Linked DNA regions of Homo sapiens: region 1 is linked to region 2. Evidence: fine-mapped expression QTL. Tissue or cell type: whole blood. Region 2 holds a variant in brackets; the other region holds the start of a gene. All regions are shown on one strand. Distances are from middle to middle.

Evidence for each region. PIP is the estimated chance that this variant, and not a neighbour inherited with it, causes the effect.
Region 1: it holds the start of LIN37, and the variant in region 2 is fine-mapped to the expression of LIN37 in whole blood (TOPMed, PIP 0.97).

The regions. Positions count from the first base shown.
Region 1 is chr19:35,745,065-35,753,064 of GRCh38, forward strand. It overlaps LIN37 (lin-37 DREAM MuvB core complex component), which reads left to right and starts at 3,512. Exons shown (of 9, transcript NM_019104.3): 1 at 3,512-3,694; 2 at 7,112-7,187; 3 at 7,370-7,420; 4 at 7,740-7,769; 5 at 7,850-7,935. The coding sequence starts at 3,661. It overlaps U2AF1L4 (U2 small nuclear RNA auxiliary factor 1 like 4), which reads right to left and starts at 354. Exons shown (of 6, transcript NM_001040425.3): 1 at 284-354; 2 at 61-148. The coding sequence starts at 327. PSENEN (presenilin enhancer, gamma-secretase subunit) reads left to right here and starts at 587. Exons shown (of 4, transcript NM_172341.4): 1 at 587-636; 2 at 771-927; 3 at 1,355-1,459; 4 at 1,644-2,455. The coding sequence starts at 867. The coding sequence ends at 1,783. RefSeq lists enhancers at 2,766-3,280, 3,182-3,241, 3,281-3,795, 3,642-3,761.
Region 2 is chr19:35,801,335-35,809,549 of GRCh38, forward strand. It overlaps PRODH2 (proline dehydrogenase 2), which reads right to left. Exons shown (of 10, transcript NM_021232.2): 5 at 5,707-5,787; 6 at 5,341-5,496; 7 at 5,096-5,262; 8 at 1,634-1,744; 9 at 857-942. Among named protein-coding and RNA genes, the nearest start is that of PRODH2, 7.4 kb to the right of the region's middle. RefSeq lists an enhancer at 5,599-6,099. The variant A/T (reference allele first, on the strand shown) is at 4,153.

The DNA.
Region 1 (8,000 bases), 56 kb before region 2:
GCCCCAGAAGGGGAAGGGCCAGGGAGCCGTTAACCCCCGAGGCTCCGTGCCGGGTCTCACCTGGCTGAATGTCGGCTTGTTGTGAAGCCGGGAGCACCGGTCCCCGTGCCGGCAGACCCCGATCTTAAAGTAAAAAGAGCAGTTAACCCTGGAAAAGGTGCAAAGACAAAGGTGAACCGAGGGCCGGGGAAGCTGGGCACCCCAGAAACACCGCCCCACCACCCAGGACCCCAGTACCCCGGCCCCGACCCCCCGAGAGTCCACTCCCAGCGCCCGTTCTCACTTGTCCTTCTCAGTCCCGAATATCGAAGCTAAATATTCAGCCATTTTTACCCAAGCCCTCCAGGTCTGGCTGCTCTTACGTCACTTCCGTTGCTTAGGAGCACTGGGAAGTGTAGTTCGTTGCCCTCTCCAGGCGCTTACCAAGCGCTCGGAAACGCCCCAGGGCGCTTGCGCGTGGGAGGCGCGCGCCCTCCCCATAGACTCCCCGGTAGGAGTTCTTTTAACAGCGCATGCGTGCAGTGTTGCCTCGCCCAAAGAAGACTACAATCTCCAGGGAAACCTGGGGCGTCTCGCGCAAACGTCCATAACTGAAAGTAGCTAAGGCACCCCAGCCGGAGGAAGTGAGCTCTCCTGGTGAGTTGGGGGTCGTTTCGCCCACCCTAGTAAATATAAAGAGCTCTTTAATCCAGCCAGCTTACTAGTGGGGGTGGGGATGCCCTGCTTTCAGCAAACCGACCTTTACATTTATCTCTGATTTGTTCTAATAGGGGCGTGGTTGTTCGTGATCCTTGCATCTGTTACTTAGGGTCAAGGCTTGGGTCTTGCCCCGCAGACCCTTGGGACGACCCGGCCCCAGCGCAGCTATGAACCTGGAGCGAGTGTCCAATGAGGAGAAATTGAACCTGTGCCGGAAGTACTACCTGGGTAAGGCAGATCGCTAGGGTCCCAGGAGAAGAGAGGGGACTGGACTAGAGCACCCGAGGGAAGAGGGCCTCGGGGCCTGGATTCTTAAGTCTAAGAGATGAAGGACCTGCGAACGCCGACTCCTGGATTTGAGTGGGGAGGGCCTGGGTCCTGAGGAATGAGGAAGCTGGGGCCTCAATTTCTGGATCCCAAGAGAGGAGGGGGATTGAGGGCCTGGACTCTTGGGTCCTGTGAAAGAGATGGTTGAGGAATCAGATTCCTGGATCCCAAAGAGGAGCCAGATTCCTGAGTCCCTGACAACAGAAATCTCCATTTGAACTTGGGTGTGGGAGAGTTTCTTCCAAATAGATCTCGGTGGGAGTTGGAGAAGATCTTCATTGCCTTATGAGGTTTTGGGGTTTGTTTGTTTGTTTTTCTTTCTCCCTAGGGGGGTTTGCTTTCCTGCCTTTTCTCTGGTTGGTCAACATCTTCTGGTTCTTCCGAGAGGCCTTCCTTGTCCCAGCCTACACAGAACAGAGCCAAATCAAAGGCTGTGAGTCTAGAGCACAGAGGAGGGAGGCCAGTGGCAGGGGAGAGGGGGAAGCGGGGAATCTTGGTGGGAAGGGACAATGGAGGATCCAAAATGTTGGGGCTCTGGGTGAGAAGGGAAGGCTGGTCTAGGGAAGTCTGGAGAGCAGCCGGAGGCCAACCCTTCCAGCTTCTGTTTCCCATGACAGATGTCTGGCGCTCAGCTGTGGGCTTCCTCTTCTGGGTGATAGTGCTCACCTCCTGGATCACCATCTTCCAGATCTACCGGCCCCGCTGGGGTGCCCTTGGGGACTACCTCTCCTTCACCATACCCCTGGGCACCCCCTGACAACTTCTGCACATACTGGGGCCCTGCTTATTCTCCCAGGACAGGCTCCTTAAAGCAGAGGAGCCTGTCCTGGGAGCCCCTTCTCAAACTCCTAAGACTTGTTTTCATGTCCCACGTTCTCTGCTGACATCCCCCAATAAAGGACCCTAACTTTCGATACTGACTTCCTGGGATCTTTTAGAGGTTGAGGCATAAATGATTATTAATATTTAAAAACATCTGTTGAGAGCTTTGTACGAGGCTTAGTATTTAGACATGATGTACATTTTTTACAGTGCATACTACTCATAATCTTCTGAACTAGGAACTTTCCTGCTCAGGAAACTATTAGATGAGAAACTAAGAAAGGAATAGTGCTTCCATTTCTTTTTCTTTTTTCTTTTTTTTTTTTTTTTTTGAGACAGAGTCTTGCTCTGTCAGCCAGGCTGGAGTGCAGTGGTAGGATCGGCCTAGTGCTTCCATTTCTAGGGGCTGTTATCCTGTACTGGTAGTCGTGAATTCAAAAATATAACTTTCCTACTGTGGGCTGCAGTATTCTCATCAGAAGTGTAGATCACGATGCTACTTCCTGGGATTTATCTGGACCAAGACGTGTGACAAATGGAAGTTTCCCGTTTTCTGAAGGAAGTGTTGTCTGCAAAAATAAAAATAGTCAAGAGCTTTCTCAGAGAATCCTTCCTTGACCATCCATCTTATTTAAAATTCAATCACCACCTTGATATTCCTATGTCCCTTTCAGGCTACACTTTTTTTGTGGGTTTTTTTTTTGGGGGGGGAGAGGGGTTTGTTGTTGTTGTCTGTTTGTTTTTCTAGATGGAGTCTTGCTCTGTCACCCAGGCTGGAGTGCAGAGGTCCGATCTCGGCTCACTGCAACCTCCGCCTCCCGGGTTCAAGCGATTCTCCTGCCTCAAACTCTCGAATAGCTGGGATTACAGGCGCATGCCACCATGCCCGGCTAATTTTTGTATTTTTAGTAAAGACTGGGTTTCACCATGTTGGCCAGGCTGGTCTCGAACTCCTGGTCACAGGTGATCTGCCTGCCTAGGCCTCCCAAAGAGCTGGGATTTACAGGCGTGAGCCACCATGCCCCGCCCAGATCATATTCTTTCTCCTATTACATTTCACTTAAAATTTACTTGTTTACTGTTTATCTTCCCTCCTTTAAAAGATAAGCTCCATTAGCGCAGGGATTTTTGTCTATTCTGTTCCTCAAGGTGTCTCCAATGCCTAGAAGAGTGCCCGACACACTAATAAATATTTGCAAAATGAATGAAGTTGTACCTGCAAAGAGATTAACAGATACCTGGCACCTAGCGAGTGCTCAGTGAGAGGGAACCCAACGTTATTTTACATTAGTCTTCCTCTTAGGGATGAAGGGACCCCAACGGTTGGTTAAATCCGGTAAAGAGCTAACTTGGTGTTGCTCAACCCTTCTCACACTACAAGTCCCGGGAAGCCTCGCGATGCCCTAATCCTTTGTTTCCCACCGTGCCCCGCGCGGCGCAGGCGCTGTTACTCAGGGTGAGTCTGGGAAGCTGGAACTACACCTCCCAGGAAGCTAGGGGGTAGATGGTTTGTTTCCGGAAGCAAAGCCCCAGGTGGGTGGGACCTAAAGCTGGGAGACTACGGAGGCAGCTCTCAATTGGTCAGGATGCGAGATTGACGGCTGCAATAACTAATAGGAACAAGCTACTGCCGAAGGGGCCCGCCCACAGAAGGGTGGTGGCCACGGTCCAGGCTGGACACAACCAAAGGCGGAGGACCCGTGGCCCACGAAGCTCATCTTTGAACTGTCCCCGCCTTCTCCCGCCTTGACTTGTGACCCTAGGCCCTTTGGGGCGCCTCTGACCCAGCTAGCCAGATCCCGGACCCAAACCATGTTCCCTGTGAAGGTGAAAGTGGAGAAATCAGGTGAGGACCCTGACGTCGGGGGCCTGTCGGGACCATCGGGTTGACAGGGTGTGGAGTCCCGGTGGAAGGGAGTATCGCGGAAAGGGGACTGCACGACTTTTCCCTGAAGCCCACCTGACAATCGCTGTATCAGGCAGCGAGCGTTGCCTGCCACCTTCACACCCTCCCGGTGTGCGCTTGAAGTCGCTTTGAGATTGAATGGGGTGGCTCGGGCAATGACGTGCGTGGTAGGACATGGGGAATCCTGAGCCGGTAACTCTGAGAAGGGCCCTTTTCTTTCCTCTTTTTTTTAATTTAAATTTTTAAAATATTTAAATAGAGACGGAGTATCGCTATATTGCCCAGGCTGGTCTCGAACTCCTGGTCTCAAGCGATCCTCCCGCCTTAGCCTCCCAAAGTGCTGAGATTACAGGCGTGAGTCCCCGCGCCCAGCCGAGAAGTTCTCTTTTCTTGGCTTCCCCTCAGTTTCCCCATTTCCAGCAGTGATCAGAGTCACACATCTTGCTGTGAGCCTGAAGTACAGGCACTCTTAATCCTCACAGTCACTATATTCCAGTAATCCTAGAAAATAGGAACTGTGGTCAATGGGTGAAGCTTAGAAAGAGGAGAGAATTTTGGGTTGGGGCGGAGCTGACCGGATCCCAGGCCTGGCATGGTAAGGGCAGTGGGAGGGGTGCAGAATTTAGACAGAAAGATAATAGTAAAATGATGTAGGATGTCCCATGGCAAAAGTGTTATTAAAACAAAGTGGGAGGCTGGGTGCGGTGGCTCACACCTGTAATCCCAACACTTTGGGAGGCCGAGGCTGGCAGATCACTTGAGGTCAGGAGTTTGAGACCAGCCTGGGCAACATAGCGAAACGCTGTCTCTATAAAAAATACAAAAAAAAAAAAAAAATTAGCCAGGTGTGGTGGCACAAGCCTGTAGTCCCAGCTACTCAGGAGGCTGAGGCAGGAGGATCGCTGGAGCCGGGGAGGCGGAGGTTGCAGTGAGCTGAGATCACACCACTGCACTCCAGCCTGGGTGATAGATTGAGACCCTGTCTCAAAAAAAAAAAAAAAGAAAGGAAAAGAAAAGAAAGAAAGAAAAGAGAAGTGGGTGTGACCACAAATGATGGTGAGGGAAGGTGTACACCTGTGAGTGCCAGGCTGAGGAGTGCAGACTCCACCCCTGGGTGCTGTGGAGTCATGGAAGTTTCCAAGCAAGGGAAGATCAGGGTCAGGTTTGTTATTTTTCAGGAAGATTCCCCTGGCTGCCTTGTGGAGGGTGTATCAGAAGGGGGACACTGAGGCAGGGAGCCAAGGGGGAGCAAAGGACAGGACCAGGATGGGTAGAGTAGGGAGGAGGTGGGTGGGAGAGACACTCGGGAGGCCTAGTGGACAGGCCATGGGGTTGGTGGGCTGGGTAGGGGAGGGAGAGGGGTATCCATGGTGAGGTACAGGGAGGGACTTGGGGACAGTGAGGCGACCCTTGAGAGGGAGGCTTCAGGCCCAAGTCGGGGGTTCAGGAGAGAGGCTGGGCCTGAGGAGAGTTGTGGACGTGATCCGTACCCTCTGCATCTGCCCAAGGCTTTGCTGCAATCTCAGCTACTCCCTTCCCCACCCTCACTCTGTCTCTCCTCTGAGCTATGTTTGAATCCCTGTGTCTCCTGGGCTTCTCAGGAAGTCCCTGGACTGGTCAGGCAAGTTCCCAGGTGTCCCCTCCAGGCTCTGAGCACTAGAGCCAGAGCTCCCACCAGTCAGAAAGGCAGAGCAAACACCTCTCAAAGGTAGGAGGACAGCGTAACATCATCACTTCCTCAAGTTCTGTGATGACGGGAGGCAGCCACAGGCTAACTGGGCAGGAAGGTGGGCCTAGATCTCATTTCCCGAGGGGGAAAAAAAAGCCCAAACAGGATGTTTTAGGTGAAATCTCCCAATTTTGGCTGGGTGCGGTGGCTTCTGCCTGTAATCCAGCACTTTGGGAGGCTGAGGCAGGTGGATCATGAGGTCAGGAGTTTGAGATCAGCCTGGTCAATATGGTGAAACCCTGTCTGTACTAAAAATAGAAAAAATTAGTTGACCATGGTGGCACGCGCCTGTAGTCCCAGTTCTTTGGGAGGCTGAGGCAGGAGAATCACTTGTACTCAGGAGGCAGAGGTTGCAGTGAGCCGAGATCACGCCACTGCACTCCAGCCTGGGAGACAGAGCAAGACTCCGTCTCAAAAAAAAGAAAAGAAAGAAATCTCCCAATTTTTAAATGTCAGCTCATTCAGATTGAATTCAGATTTAAAATTATACCACTGTTGGCCGGGCATGGTGGCTCACGCCTGTAAGCACTTTGGGAGCCTGAGGCCAGCAGATCACTGAGGTCAGGAGTTTGAGACCAGCCTGGTCAACGTGGTAAGACCCCATCTCTACTAAAAATACAAAAATTAGCCAGGCGTGGTGGCGGGCGCCTGTAATCCCAGCTATTTGGGAGGCTGAGGCAGGAGAATCACTTGAACCTGGGAGGTGGAGGTTGCAGTGAGCCAAGATTATGCCACTGCATTCCAGCCTGGGTGACAGAGCAAGACTCCGTCTCACAAAACAGAAATACATTAATTAATTAAAATAAAATTATACCACTGCCTCAACCAGATTCTGCACTCAGGTTGAGCCTCTGTCTCATAACTTCAGCTTTGGAACCAGACAGCCTGGGTTCAAATCATCAGCTCTGCAATTTCTTTGCTGTGTGCCTTTGAGCACGTGGCCTAACATCTCTGTGCCTCAGTTTCATCATCTTTAAAATAGGAATAAAAATCATATCTATCTGAGCTGGGCTCTATGGCATGTGCCTATAGCCCCAGCTACTTGGGAGGCTGAGACAGCAGGACCGCTTGAGCCCAGGAGTTCAAAACCGGACAACATCGTGATATCCTTTTTCAAGAAAAAAAAAAATCACATCTACCTCTAAGGGTTATTGTGATAATTCAGTGGGTTATTATTTGTAATATATAGCATATTTAAACCTTGCCACTGGGACAGGCACAGTGGCTCACACCTGTAATCCCAGCACTTTGGGAAGCCGAGATGGCTCACCTGAATCTAGGAGTTCAAGACCAGCTTGGTCAATATCATTAAGACTCCATCTCTATACAATTTTTTTGTAATAAATTTATATTATATTAAAACACATTTTTTTAAAACCCAAAAGGCTCATAAGGTAAGGTGATTGGCCTTACCTCCTGTCACAGAGCAATCACGTGGGACAGCTCTGGAACTCAGAGCTCTGGGCATCACTCCAGCCATCTCTGCCTGTTGCACCCTTTCAGGCTGCCTGGGCCTGGCTCTGAGATTGGCCAGGGCAGAGGACACGCACGCCCTTCCCTGGCCCAGTCAGCTGCCCACCTAGCTGGGGCCTGGGAGCTGACTCCTGCTGGGTCCTCTCTTGCCCCAGAGCTGGAGATGGCCAAAGCCCGGAACCAACTGGATGCTGTCTTGCAGTGTCTGCTGGAGAAGAGTCACATGGACAGGTAGGCCAGCGTGGGGTCACAGGGCCGGGCACCCTGGTGGGTTGGGCCCTCTGATCCTGGGTGGATTGGGTGGGACCCCACAGGCTGACTTGGGGAGGAAGGTGCTTAATGGGGAGGCTGCTCGGTGCCTTCCTTCTCTGGGGCCCTGGAACCCTGAGCTGAGAGATCTCTTCTGCCTCTAGGGAGCGTCTGGATGAGGAAGCTGGGAAAACACCCTCAGACACCCACAATAAGTGAGTTTTTCTGATTGGATTTGGAGTTGAGAGTTCGTGGTTGGTAACTTCTTTCCTTATCCAAGCCCTGACCGCTCAGCCCAGCGCTACCTCCATCGTGGCCCGGACCACTCCACCTGTACAAAGACCCTGTGGCAGGAGAAGCTTAGGTCCCCCCGTGGTTGCCACCTAGACCCCCATGGGTATGGGTGGGACAAAAGGCCCAAGAGGCAAGTGGGGTTCATGTGAGCATCTCAGGTTTGATACCAGTATCCCCAGGGTGCCCTCTGCAGGGTTTTGCACAGGCGTTTGTCTGAGGGTCAACTGTCTTTCCCCACAGGGACTGCTCCATCGCAGCCACTGGCAAAAGGTAAGGTGGCAGGGTCCCAGCCAGCTGACTAGAGGCTCCCAGCTCCTACCCCAGTCCTGACACTCCCTCTCCCTACGCAGGCCATCTGCCCGCTTCCCCCACCAGCGGAGGAAGAAGAGGAGGGAGATGGATGATGGGCTGGCTGAGGGAGGGCCGCAGCGATCCAGTGAGTAGACAGTGGCCCTAGAGGGTCGGTAAGGAGCCAAGGGCCTATGCAAGGATGCTCACACA
Region 2 (8,215 bases):
AGCCGTCTGTAATCCCAGCTACTTGGGAGGCTGAGGCAGGAGAATCGCTTGAACCTGGGAGGCAAAGGTTGCAGTGAGCCAAGATGGCACCACTGGACTCCTGCCTGGGTAACAGAGCAAGACTCTGTCTCAAAATAAATAAATAAATAAAATAAAATAAAAGAGAAAATGAGAACCCAGAGAGAGAAGAGACACACAGCAAGCCACTTCTGCCCCAAAAGCAAAACCGAGGTGCTATCTGATGAATTCACAGAGTTGCGGGGGGACATTGAGTCAGTCTTCAAGCCTGAGGTGAGAGTTATAAGGGAGAACTTCCCCAAGTTAAGCTGGAACCCAAAAATCTACACCCTTAGAGTAAGAGTTAATAAAAAGTCAACCCTGCAACCTTCCCCCAGTCCCAGGAAATGGTCTTGGCCATAAACAGATCAAGGAAGAAAACAGAAAAATCCACCTCTGCGAAGTTGGGGCTATGGGTTAACCCCCTTATGTATTTGCAGCTCAAATTTGTGCCAGTGGGGTGTTTCAAGAAACCTCAAGCTATGAATTTAGGATAAAGTGATTTCGTTCTGCTTAGCACCTGGCAGAAGGAAACATTAATTACCTGGTGTCAGGCCCTGAGGAGCAGCACAGTAAAGATAACAAAACACACAAGAAATAATACACCATGATCAAGAACCAGCAGAAATGACAGACGGCAGACACAGAGACACAGCCTTGGAAGGCCCACAGACACTGGAATGACAGATCTCTCTGGAAGGATCTGGAGGCTGGGCCTTGGTTGGGAATAGGAGAAGGGCTCTGGCTGGGAGGGAGTAAGGCCTGGGGCTTGATGGGGGTGGGGGAGCCATTCACATACCCAGTGCTAGAGAGACGTGGTCACACATGCCCAGAAGTTGTCCGAAACAGACAGTCCCATCCAGAGGAATGCCCAGCTCCCACATGCTACAGAAAAGGCCACATCATCAGTCCAGACTGTGGCTGCATCTACAGCTTAAAGTCAGCCACTATGCACCCATATGGCGGCTCCAGTAATTCAAACATTGAAGTATTTCCAAACTCAATGATACATAATAACCAGTCCTTTGCATTCCTTGAAGGTCCCCCAGTGACTCCCAGCCAGTTCCCTGGAGCCCTCAGACCTCCTCATGCCCCAGCAAATAAGGGGCAACGTCTTGTCCATCTGGGACCTATAAGGACTTACAGGTATAGCAGGGGTTAATGTGTTTGTTTGTTTGTTTGTTTTAAGAGGTAGGGACTTGCTTTGTTACCCAGGCTGGAGTGCAGTGGCTCAAGCACTGCTCACTGCAGTCTCAACCTCTTGGGCTCAAGTGATCCTTCCACCTCCGGAATAGCTGGGACTACAGGTGTGCGCCACCACACCCAGCTGTTTTTTTTTTTTTAATTTGTTGTAGAAATGGGGTCTTGCTGTGTTGCCCAGGCTGGTCTCAAACAATCCTCCACCTTCGCCTCCCAAAGTGTTGGGATTATAGGCATGTGCCAACCATGCCTGGCTATAAATATTTTTAAAATTCTCCCCAGAACACCTCTGTCCATCTCTGGCATTTGAGCAAAGGAGAGGAAGGGAGGGCCCTTTTGTGGGCACCTATTTCCCGCCCATCCCTCCACCTCATACCGCTTGGTTGCCTGGCGAACAGATTCCTCATTGTGGGAAGCCACCATGAGGTGGCACATGGGGCCATGGCGGGCCACGTGCGTCAGCATCAGTTCCAGGCAGCGGCTGTAACTGAAGGGAGATGCTCTGTTCAGCTCACCTGGTGAGCGAGGGTCAGGCCCCAGCGACTGGGGTGGGTGGGGTGCTCCTAAGCAAGGGGTCTCTGGAACCAGTACTCTGTTCCATCTGCACCAGTTGTAAGGGACATCACTTCTCTGAGCCACTTTCATCTTCTGGGGTTTTTTGGGGGTTTTGTTTGTTTGTTTTTGAGATGGAGTCACTCTGTTGCCCAGGCTGGAATGCAGTGGCATGATCTCAGCTCACTGCAACCTCCACCTCCCAGGTTCAAGGGATTCTCCTGCCTCAGCCTCCCGAGCAGCTGGGATTACAGGCGTGCACCATCACACCCGGCTAATTTTTGTATTTTTAGTAGAGACGGAGTTTCGCCATGTTGCCCAGGCTGGACTCGAACTCCTGACCTCAGGTGATCTGCCCGCCTCAGCCTCCCAGAGTGCTGGGATTACAGGCGTGAGCCACCGCACCCGGCCCCATGTTAATCTCTTGTCACTGTGAGTTTCCGAGCAACACTGTTGTGAGGATGGAGTGAGATAAGGGGGATATGAAGTCTTTGGGACAGTGGCGGCGGTCTCACAGGAGAGGGTCGCATCACATGCACAAGATGACATTTCCCCAAGGTTATCACTGCTGCATTGTCAACAGAACATCACTAGCAACAGCCCAAATGTCCATAAATGGGGAACTGGCTAAGGAAATTGTGGTACAGAGAAGATAGTGCTCTATCGCGCAACTGTGAAAAGGAAGGAAGACACTGTCTGGGTACTGATATGGAAGAGGAAATAGATTGGCAAACACCTTGCAAGCATGCTGCAGGCCACGGGCCACGCTATGTATTTCACATCCTCTGTGGGTCTTCCCTATCGCCCCCCAGACCTGTTTTCTACCCTTCTCTGCCCCTCAGGAAGCTGACACTTTTGCCCCACATCCCCCATGGAGTCATGTGCAGGAAGGAGTGTGGGTGTCTCACCTCGGCCCCTCCCTGCTCACCCTGACTGTGTTCTGTGTGTGGCCACAGCTCCCTAAGGTGGCCCCTCTCCTTCAACTACAGCATAGGGGTCAAAATAGCTTCCTAATAGCTTCCCTGACTTTGCCCACACTTCCTTTTCGTTTTGTGTTTTTTAGAGACTGGGTCTCACTCTGTTGCCCAGGTTGGAGTGCAGTGGCGTGATCTCGGCTCACGGAATCCTCCAACTCCTGGGCTCAAGCGATCCTCCCACCTTGGGCTCCCAAAGTGCTGGGATTACAGGTGTGAGGCCCTGCACCTGGCCCCTGACACTTCTATAAACAGCCTCTTCACCACATTTCCTTTAGTTAAAACCCTTTGTGCAGAATTCTGTTTGCTTTGGAGAAAGCTAATCACTCATCTAATTCCCACATCAACTCTGGGAGGCAGATGTTCTTATTCCATTTTAACAGAGTGGGGAGACTGAAGCTGAGAGGGGTTCTATCTCTTGTCCCCAGGTCACACAGCTAGAGGTGGCCAGGCTGGGATTTGAACTCAGGCTGTCTGATGCTCCAGAGCCCAGGCTCCTTATCGGTAGGCTAGTCTGCCTTTAAAATGCACAGTTGTGGCTGGACATGCTGGCTTACGCCTATAATCCCAGCACTTGGGGAGGCCAAGGCAGGAGGGCTGCTTCAGCCTAGGAGTTCAAGACTAGCCTGGGCAACATAGGGAGACCCCGTGTCTACAAAAATAAAAAAATGTGTTGGGTATGGTGGTGTGCGCTGGTGGTCTTAGCTACTGGGGAGACTGAGGTGGGAGGATGGCTTGGGCCTGGGGAGTCAAGGCTGCAGTGAGCCAAGATCGCACCACTGCACTCCAGCCTGGGCGACAGAGTGAGACCCTGTCTCAAAAATAACTTAAAAAACAAATGAAAAAAGCCAAATATACAAGGGCACATATTGTATGATTCCATTTATAAGATTGTCTAGAATAGGCAAATCCACAGAGACAAAAAGTAGGTTAGTGGTTTCCAGGGGCTGAGGGGAGGAGGGAACAGAAGGCAGCTGACTGCTCATTGGTATGAGGTTACTTTTTGGGGTGATGAAAATATTGTGGAATCAAAGAGTGGTGATGGTTGCACAATTTTGGGAATATACTAAACTCCACTGAATTGTACATGTTAAAATTGTGAATTCTATGATACGTGAATTATATTTCAATATTTAAAATAATAGTGCAAATTATTATTATTATTTTGAGATGGAGTCTCACTCTGTCGCCCAGGCTGGAGTGTAGTGGCTCAATCTTGGCTCACTACAACCTTTGCCTCCTGGGTTCAAGTGATTCTCCTTCCTCAGCCTCCCAAGTAGCTGGGATTACCAGTGCAAGCCACCACACCCGGCTAATTTTTGTATTTTTAGTAGAGACAGGGTTTCACCATGTTTGTCAGGCTGGTCTC[A/T]AACTCCTGACCTCAGGTGATCTGCCTGCCTCAGCCTCCCAAAGTGCCGGGATTACAAGCGTGAGCCACCATGCCCGGCCATAATTTTTTGTGTTTAATGTTTTTTACAGATGGGGTCTTGCTATGTTGTGCAGATTGGGCTCAAACCCCTGGGCTCAAGCAATCTTCCTGCCTCAGCCTCCCAAGTAGTTGGGATGACAGGTGCACACCACTGTGCCTGGCTTGGTGCCAGTTAAGCTGATGGTACACAAACGTGCCCTGGAGCCCCTGCAGATCTTGGACATGAGCCTGGATTCCAAGCGTGGCTAGGCCACCTGCTCTGTAGCCTGGCTGAGTCCCTGTGGCCCCCAGAGAAGGTACCAAGAAGTAAAGATCTAAGGAGGTGAGGGATGGGGCCATGCCACTGTCTGCAGTGGGAATGTCCCAGGCAGTGGAAACAGGATGTGCCAAGCCCCTGGGTAACATGGAGGAGGCCAGTGTGGCTGTAGTGGAGTGAGGGAGAGGAAGAGAGGGAGGGAAAGTTAGGGAAGTGACAGGGAGCATGTGGGGCTTAGAGGCCACTGTAAGGATTTCTTTTTGTTTTGTTTTGTTTGTTTGTTTGTTTGTTTGTTTGTTTTGAGACAGATTCTCGCTCTGCTGCCCAGGCTGAAGTGCAGTGGTGCAGTCATGGCTCACTGCAGCCTTGAACTCCTGGCCTCAAGTGATCCTCCCACCTCAGCCTCCTAAGTGGCTGGAACCACAGGCATGTGCTACCACACCTGACTATTTTTAAAATTTTTTAGAGATGGGGTCTCCCTGTGTTGCCCAGGCTGGTCTCCAACTCCTGCTCTCAAGTGAATCTCTAGCCTCAGCCTCCCAAAGCACTGGGATTACAGGTATGAGCCACTGCACCCAACCACTAGGTGTTATTATTTCCTGCAGAGGCCAGCTGGCCCGGGCCTACCTCTGACTGGTGGCCTCATAGTCAGGCTGAGTGGGGTCTTCCATCCCATGGAGCTGGGCCACCGCTCTCTCCTTGTCCAGATATGCACCTCGTACCAGCTTCACTCCGAAGGCCAGGCCGGCCCTGTGCGCAGCCTCTGCATCCCTCCCCAGCCGCTCGAATGTGTCCTATAGGGCACGCAGGCAGGTTCTGGTAGGTCAGGGTGTGGGGACCCCAGCCTGTACCTCCTGGAACACACTGCACACCTTTAGACAGGCCTGGTAGGTGTTCCACACCCAGGGCCCGCCTTCACCCGGGCTGTTCCAGCGCACAGCCAGGGCAGCCACCAGCAGCGAGAGCGCAGGGTTCAGTGAGGTGTACTCCGCATCCACCAGGAGCCGCACGTGCTGGGCCCGGGCATACTGATGGCGACAGAGACGACGGTCAGGGCCCCGGGTGTCCAGCAGGGGCAGTGGAGCCAGATCCCAGCAGGAGGGGTTACCTGTGCCACCCGATGCAGGCGGCTGAGGGAGGCCCGGAGGTGCTGGTTCCAGCAGGAGGGGTTACCTGTGCCACCCAATGCAGGCGGCAGAGGGAGGCCCGGAGGTGCTGGTTCCAGCAGGAGGGGTTACCTGTGCCACCCGATGCAGGCGGCTGAGGGAGGCCCGGAGGTGCTGGTTCTGCTCAGCATTGAGGCAGGAGACCTGGAGGTTCTAGGGGGCAGCAGGGGAAGTGGGGAAAAGCTTATAAGTTGCTAGAAATCTAAAAATGAGCAATATCAGTTAGGTACTATTTATTGAGGGGGTTATGAGCCTAGAATCAGGGCTCGAATCCAGGCTTCACCACCTACTGTGTGACCTTGGGCAAGTTATGTAACCTTTCTGGGCCTCAGTTTTTGTTTGTTTGTTTTTTGAAACAGAGTCTTGCTCTGTTGCCCAGGCTGGAGTGCAGTGGCATGATCTCAGCTCACTGCAACCTCTGCCTCCTGGGTTCAAGTGATTCTCCTGCTTCAGCCTCCCGAGTAGCTGGGATTACAGGCGCCCGCCACCATGCCCGGCTAATATTTGTACTTTTAGTAGAGACAGGGTTTAACCATGTTGGCCAGGCTGGTCTCGAACTCCTGACCTCAAGTGATCTGCCCACATCGGCCTCCCAAAGTGCTGGGATTACAGGTGTGAGCCACCGTGCTCAGCCCTCCCTGCTACTCTTTGAACACGAGGGCACCTTCCCACCTCCAGCCCTTTACCTGCTCCCATGTTTCCTTCAAGTATTTGCTCTAATGTCACTTTCTCAACATGGTTTTCCCACCTATACATTGGCAACTTCTTTTCCTCTTCCTCAGCCTTATTTTCCCTTACTTGTTACGTACTGACTTTTGTTTTGCTGAGACGGGGTCTTGCTGTGTTGCCCAGGCTGGAATGCAGTGGCACGATCATGGCTCACTGCAGCCTCCACCTCCCCAGCTCAAGCAATCCTCCTGCTTCAGCCTTCCAAGTACCTAGTACCACAGGCACCCACCACCATGCCGGGCTAATTCTTTACTATTTGTAGAGTCAAGGTCTTCCTATGTTGCCCAGGCTGGTCTCAGTCTCCTGGACTCAAGCGATCCTCCCACCTCAGCCTTCCAAAGTGCTGGGATTCTGACTTTGGTTTTAATTATTGTCTCTTGCCCCTGACTTGCAAGTAAGTGCCTCGAGGTCAGGGATTTTGCCTTCATGCTTCCTCGGCCCCTAGCACCGTGTCTGGAACAAGATAGATGTTCAGCAAACACTTCGGGAGTGGATATGCTTGTAACATGGAAATAAGAACCGTTTCTAACTCACAGTCTTATGCAGATTCATCTGGCTGAATGTGAGCTGCTGGTGACTCCAGGGAGTCTGGCTGGGTTCAAAGAAGTTGGGAAATGGAAGAAAGAGGAACAGGTGGGGCTGAAAGCTTTATTATATCCAACAGGGTCGATACAGATGACATAGGCCTGGGCTTGCTCATGGAATCCCACCTGGAGGCAGGTTGGGCTGGAAGCTGCAACCTTCCGCATGGTGGGGAGAATGCTGCCTCCTGGAGAAGGGAAGACCTGGAGGCAGCAGCCTGGTTTCCTCCTCCCCTGTCAGAGGATTGTCTCCTGCTTGACTTGGGGCGTAGTCTTAGGCCCTCAGGGAGCTATTTCAGACACCCACCAAATATTTAACTCATTTAATATTTACCACTCTCTAATGTACCAACTGTTATTATCCCCCCATTTTCTAGATGGGGAAACTGAGGCACAGAGCAGGGAAGTCACTTGTCAAAAGTCACACAGCTAACTCAGGGCAGACCTGAGGTTTAAACCTCAGCCTTTCCAGAGCCTGGGTCTTTCTCTCTTTTCTCCCTCCCTCCCTCCTTCCCTCCCTTCCTTCCTTCCTTCTTTTTTTTTTTTTTTTGAGATAGATCTCACTCTGTCTCCCAGGCAAGAGTGCAGTGGTGCAAGTTCAAGTGATTCCCCTGCCTCAGCCTCCTGATTAACTGGGGCTACAGGCACGTGCCACCACTTCTGGATAAGTTTTATATTTTTAGTAGAGATGGGGTTTCACCATGTTGCCCAGGCTGGTCTCAAACTCCTGACCTCAAGTGATCCAGCCCCACTTAGCCTCCCAAAGTGCTGGGATTACAGGTGTGAGCTACAGCACCTGGCCCTTTTTTCTTTCTTTCTTTATTTCTTTCTTCCTTCCTTCCTTCCTTCCTTTCCTTCCTTCCTTCCTTCCTCCCTCCCTCTCTTTCTTTCTTCGCTCTCAAACTTGCCAGCTCAAGCAATCCTCCCACCTTAGCCTCCCAAGTAGCCAGGATTACAGGTGCCTGCCACCACACCCAGCTAATTTAAAGGAATTTTTTGTAGAGATGAGGGTTTACTATATTACTCAGGTTGGTATTGACCTCCTGGGCTCAAGCGACCCTCCTGCCTTAGCCTCCACACCAGGTGTGCACCAGCACACAGGCTGATTTTTTAATTTTTTTGTAGAGATGAGATCTCACTATGTTGCCCAGGCAGGTCTCAAACTCCTGGGCTCAAGTGAGCCTCCAATTTCAGCCTCCCAAAATGCAGATTACAGGCATGAGGCACTGCACCCAGCCTGTTTTAATCCTTAAAACCACTGAGAAGTTGCT